2 separate regions of the Homo sapiens genome follow, and region 2 is linked to region 1. The links come from fine-mapping of genetic effects on gene expression. Tissue or cell type: whole blood. Region 1 holds a variant in brackets; the other region holds the start of a gene. All regions are shown on one strand. Distances are between the middles of the regions.

Region 1 (2,718 bases):
GCGCTGGAGGGGCCAGGCCTGTCGCTGCTGTGCCTGGTGTTGGCGCTGCCTGCCCTGCTGCCGGTGCCGGCTGTACGCGGAGTGGCAGAAACACCCACCTACCCCTGGCGGGACGCAGAGACAGGGGAGCGGCTGGTGTGCGCCCAGTGCCCCCCAGGCACCTTTGTGCAGCGGCCGTGCCGCCGAGACAGCCCCACGACGTGTGGCCCGTGTCCACCGCGCCACTACACGCAGTTCTGGAACTACCTAGAGCGCTGCCGCTACTGCAACGTCCTCTGCGGGGAGCGTGAGGAGGAGGCACGGGCTTGCCACGCCACCCACAACCGTGCCTGCCGCTGCCGCACCGGCTTCTTCGCGCACGCTGGTTTCTGCTTGGAGCACGCATCGTGTCCACCTGGTGCCGGCGTGATTGCCCCGGGTGAGAGCTGGGCGAGGGGAGGGGCCCCCAGGAGTGGTGGCCGGAGGTGTGGCAGGGGTCAGGTTGCTGGTCCCAGCCTTGCACCCTGAGCTAGGACACCAGTTCCCCTGACCCTGTTCTTCCCTCCTGGCTGCAGGCACCCCCAGCCAGAACACGCAGTGCCAGCCGTGCCCCCCAGGCACCTTCTCAGCCAGCAGCTCCAGCTCAGAGCAGTGCCAGCCCCACCGCAACTGCACGGCCCTGGGCCTGGCCCTCAATGTGCCAGGCTCTTCCTCCCATGACACCCTGTGCACCAGCTGCACTGGCTTCCCCCTCAGCACCAGGGTACCAGGTGAGCCAGAGGCCTGAGGGGGCAGCACACTGCAGGCCAGGCCCACTTGTGCCCTCACTCCTGCCCCTGCACGTGCATCTAGCCTGAGGCATGCCAGCTGGCTCTGGGAAGGGGCCACAGTGGATTTGAGGGGTCAGGGGTCCCTCCACTAGATCCCCACCAAGTCTGCCCTCTCAGGGGTGGCTGAGAATTTGGATCTGAGCCAGGGCACAGCCTCCCCTGGGGAGCTCTGGGAAAGTGGGCAGCAATCTCCTAACTGCCCGAGGGGAAGGTGGCTGGCTCCTCTGACACGGGGAAACCGAGGCCTGATGGTAACTCTCCTAACTGCCTGAGAGGAAGGTGGCTGCCTCCTCTGACATGGGGAAACCGAGGCCCAATGTTAACCACTGTTGAGAAGTCACAGGGGGAAGTGACCCCCTTAACATCAAGTCAGGTCCGGTCCATCTGCAGGTCCCAACTCGCCCCTTCCGATGGCCCAGGAGCCCCAAGCCCTTGCCTGGGCCCCCTTGCCTCTTGCAGCCAAGGTCCGAGTGGCCGCTCCTGCCCCCTAGGCCTTTGCTCCAGCTCTCTGACCGAAGGCTCCTGCCCCTTCTCCAGTCCCCATCGTTGCACTGCCCTCTCCAGCACGGCTCACTGCACAGGGATTTCTCTCTCCTGCAAACCCCCCGAGTGGGGCCCAGAAAGCAGGGTACCTGGCAGCCCC[C/T]GCCAGTGTGTGTGGGTGAAATGATCGGACCGCTGCCTCCCCACCCCACTGCAGGAGCTGAGGAGTGTGAGCGTGCCGTCATCGACTTTGTGGCTTTCCAGGACATCTCCATCAAGAGGCTGCAGCGGCTGCTGCAGGCCCTCGAGGCCCCGGAGGGCTGGGGTCCGACACCAAGGGCGGGCCGCGCGGCCTTGCAGCTGAAGCTGCGTCGGCGGCTCACGGAGCTCCTGGGGGCGCAGGACGGGGCGCTGCTGGTGCGGCTGCTGCAGGCGCTGCGCGTGGCCAGGATGCCCGGGCTGGAGCGGAGCGTCCGTGAGCGCTTCCTCCCTGTGCACTGATCCTGGCCCCCTCTTATTTATTCTACATCCTTGGCACCCCACTTGCACTGAAAGAGGCTTTTTTTTAAATAGAAGAAATGAGGTTTCTTAAAGCTTATTTTTATAAAGCTTTTTCATAAAACTGGTTGTAGTTGCACAGCTACTGGGAGGGCAGCCGGGGACACCTGAGCCGCCCGCTGTGCCCAGATCCCTCAGGCTGCCTGCCATCAGAACTGCTGCCCGGGGCTTCCCCTACCTCAGACAGACCCTCCCTGGGAGGATCAGTGGGGAGTGCCACCTCTGCCCCCAGTGGCTGTGGCACGTGGCAGGGGCCCCTGAAGCTCAGCGAGGGTCAGGGCCTGGGAGGGTATCATTGCTGGAAGAACAGGATGGGGCTCAGGCCAGCCCTAGTCGCCGGGGCCCACACTAACCCCCCACTTATGAATTCCTCCCACTCCCAACTCACAGGGGATTTCCCGAGAGGGGACCTGCCAAAGACCTCCTCCAGGCCTCCCATGCTTTCCGGGAAGTGAAGCTTCTCCCTCTCTGGGGCAGGCTCTGAAGCCTCCCGATGCACCCAGAGCAACCGGGGGGCTGCACCAGCCACTCGCCTCCCCAGCACGGCCAGGTTCCCGGGGCTGGAGGTCCCCCCCAGGTCCTGGGAACCAACCTGCAGAACACACACAGGGTCCCCTGGAGAGGACGCGGGGACTTCCAGGGCCCGACTCCTGTGAGTCACAGCCCCGCAGCTGCTGCGCCACCCCCACCCTGACTCATGCCCCTTCCCAGCAGCTCCTCCCAGGACCCCATGTCCTTCCCACATCCGCAGGAAGGGAGTGCCTGGACTCTCCAGGCCCACCTGGGGAGCCCCTCACCTGCCCACCAGCCCCTGAGCAGCCCAGTAACACCATCACCGTGTCCAACAGCCAGGAGCCTCCACCCTCCAGGA
Region 2 (2,614 bases), 38 kb after region 1:
CGCGGAAGGCCGGGTGGAGCCCATCCATGCTGTGGTGTTGCCTCGAGGGAAGTCGCTGGACCAGTGTGTGGAGACCCTGCAGAAGCAGACCAGGGTTGGCAAGGCTGGCACCAACAAGCCCCCCAGGTGCCGGGGAAGAGGGGCCAGGCCTGGGGGCCGCCCAGCTCCTCGGAATGTGTTTGACTTCCTCAATGAAAAGCTGCAAGGTCAGGCTCCTGGGGCCCTAGAAGCCGGGGCGGCCCCAGCGGGGAGGAGGAGCAAGGACATGTACCATGCCAGCAAGAGTGCCAAGCGGGCCCTGAGCCTGCGGCTCTTCCAGACTGAGGAGAAGATCGAGCGAACCCAGCGGGACATCAGGAGCATCCAGGAGGCTCTCGCCCGCAACGCTGGCCGGTACGTGTGGGGCCCAGCTCAGGGCAAAGGGCGACCCAGGGTGGCCCTGCCCCCGGGATACATGCTGGAGGTCACCTGACCCAAGCATAGCGGGCTGAGTCCAGGAGGGGTCTGCATGTTGGAGGACGGGCAGCGGGCACACAGGCAGTGGGTACGGCAGACTGGGGTTGGTGGCATGGCCCAGGACCCCACGCTGACTAGTGAGCCCCTCCGCAGGCATAGCGTGGCGTCAGCCCAGCTGCAGGAGAAGCTGGCAGGAGCCCAGCGCCAGCTGGGGCAGCTCCGGGCTCAGGAAGCCGGCCTGCAGCAGGAGCAGAGGAAGGCAGACACCCACAAGAAGATGACTGAGTTCTAGAGACCCCACAAGCACTATGGACGAAGCGTGGGACCCCAGCACGGGCTGCCCTCAGGAAGACCAGTGTTGCCCGAGGAGGGGCCGGCCTGCTGGCCTGGGGCGTGCAGACACTGCTGAGTGGAGACAGAGCTGCGGGGTCCCATCTGGACACTTACTTGCCCACCTGCCAGTGTCTTGGGCATTTCCTTGGCAAGGACATTAAAGTGATTTCATCACAGTGTCATTCAGTGGAGATCAGCTGGCTGCAGGGTCTCTGGGGAGAGAAGGGTCTGTGCAGGGCTGTGGTGAGAGACGGGCTGGGCTGGAGGGGCCTAGGAGGCCGGCATTCTCCCTTCTTACCCTTCTCTGACCAAGGCAGATCGGAGGCCAGGGTGCCCGCCAGGCTGCCTGACACCCACAGATGGGTGGAGCTCAGTGCTGCTCCAGCGGGCGAGACGGGCGGGAGAGGACTGTGGCCCACCACGTGGGGCACTCTTGGTGAGGCAGGCGGACCTGGCCCTGTGGGTTTGGGGGTTCTGTGCCAGCTCTGCTCACGTCTTCGTGTGTGGAGGGGTTGTGAGTTAGGCTGTCAGAACAGTGCGGGCTAGAGGCGCACACGTTTCATCTAGGCTTCGGGCGGGGCGCAGCAGGTGGGTGAGGCTGCGGTGGTGGCTGCTGCCCAGGGTGGGAGGCTCAGGGGAGGCGCTTGGCGACAGGAGCAGGAAGTGATGAGGTGGGGAGCTCAGCCGAGGGCTGCACAAAGACCTTCCTGGCCTGCCCCAGACAGAGCTGAGGACCCCTGGCCGTGGGCTTGGTAAGTGCCCTCCTGGGGGGCAGCTGGGGTCTGGGAGGCCTTGGGATGTGGCTGCAGCTGGGTCAGTCAGCCAGGCTGAAGCCCACTCCCTGGGTCTGAGCAGACTGGCCCCAAACTCCAGAGACCACCCCTCACCCCCCAGCTTCTGTCTCTGCTGCTGGACTGTGCTGTTTGTAAGGCATCCCCCACCCCGAGAAGTTCTGCTAAGATCCCCAAGAAGGGGACAGATCCTCTCTGGCAGAGACACTGGCAGACAAGAAGAGCCAGAGAGAAGTGGGGTGGGGGCATCAGCACCCCCAGCAGCTGCTGCTGCCTGCTGACCCAGCCTCCAGCTCCTCCGGGTGCAGGGTCCCTCCTGCTGACCAGCCTCCAGCTCTTCCCAGTTCTGGGCTCCGCAGCGAGCGGCTTGGGGGCACTACCTGACACAGGAGACCATGTCTGGGCAGAGGGTGGCTGCAGGTGGAGTCTGTGGCCTGTGGCGCACACCCAGGGGCTCCCCCGATGCTGGTTACTATCTGGGCTATGGTGGCCACAGCTGTCTTGCCCCTCCTCACGGCCGTGCTGGGTGTTACCGTGGTCACCCGCAGGGACACGGAGGGGCCAGGCAGAGCAGCCCTAGTTCACCTCACCGGGAGCCCCCGCCAGAAGGTGGGCACCTCTGGGAGGGAGGGACTGCCAGGCCTTGGGGCTTCCTGTGCTGAGTCAGAGCTGGAACGGGAGACGCAGGAGCCCCGCAGCCGCGGGAGGTGCAGATTTGGGGCTGCCAGGTGGCGCCAGGTCCCCTTGGCCAGCCCCCAGCGCCCCTTTCTTCTGTCCCCAGGGCCTCGGCTTCACAGGATGGGGCTGCCAGTGTCCTGGGCCCCTCCTGCCCTCTGGGTTCTAGGGTGCTGCGCCCTGCTCCTCTCGCTGTGGGCGCTGTGCACAGCCTGCCGCAGGTAGGTCCCTCAGCCGCGTTCTGTCTGGGGCCTCGCTGCGGCTGCCATTCACAGCCCAGCGCGGGAAGGGGCTGGAGGCAGGTCCGCGCACCCAGCTCGGCACGCGCGCCTGCACCGGGCCTTGGACCCGAGGCTGAC

The links. PIP is the estimated chance that this variant, and not a neighbour inherited with it, causes the effect.
Region 2: LIME1 starts here. The variant in region 1 is fine-mapped to the expression of LIME1 in whole blood (INTERVAL, PIP above 0.99).

Annotation. Positions count from the first base shown.
Region 1 is chr20:63,696,774-63,699,491 of GRCh38, forward strand. TNFRSF6B (TNF receptor superfamily member 6b) reads left to right here. Exons shown (of 3, transcript NM_003823.4): 1 at 1-418; 2 at 555-749; 3 at 1,507-1,911. The coding sequence ends at 1,790. It overlaps ARFRP1 (ARF related protein 1), which reads right to left. Exons shown (of 8, transcript NM_001267547.3): 8 at 1,874-2,718. RTEL1-TNFRSF6B (RTEL1-TNFRSF6B readthrough (NMD candidate)) reads left to right here. Exons shown (of 38, transcript NR_037882.1): 36 at 1-418; 37 at 555-749; 38 at 1,507-1,925. Among named protein-coding and RNA genes, the nearest start is that of TNFRSF6B, 1.5 kb to the left of the region's middle. RefSeq lists enhancers at 984-1,033, 2,129-2,178, 2,419-2,598, 2,669-2,718. The variant C/T (reference allele first, on the strand shown) is at 1,453.
Region 2 is chr20:63,735,172-63,737,785 of GRCh38, forward strand. LIME1 (Lck interacting transmembrane adaptor 1) reads left to right here and starts at 1,493. Exons shown (of 6, transcript NM_017806.4): 1 at 1,493-1,541; 2 at 2,362-2,476. The coding sequence starts at 2,379. It overlaps ZGPAT (zinc finger CCCH-type and G-patch domain containing), which reads left to right. Exons shown (of 7, transcript NM_181485.3): 6 at 1-393; 7 at 610-971. The coding sequence ends at 748. RefSeq lists enhancers at 919-1,098, 1,678-2,594 and a silencer at 2,529-2,614.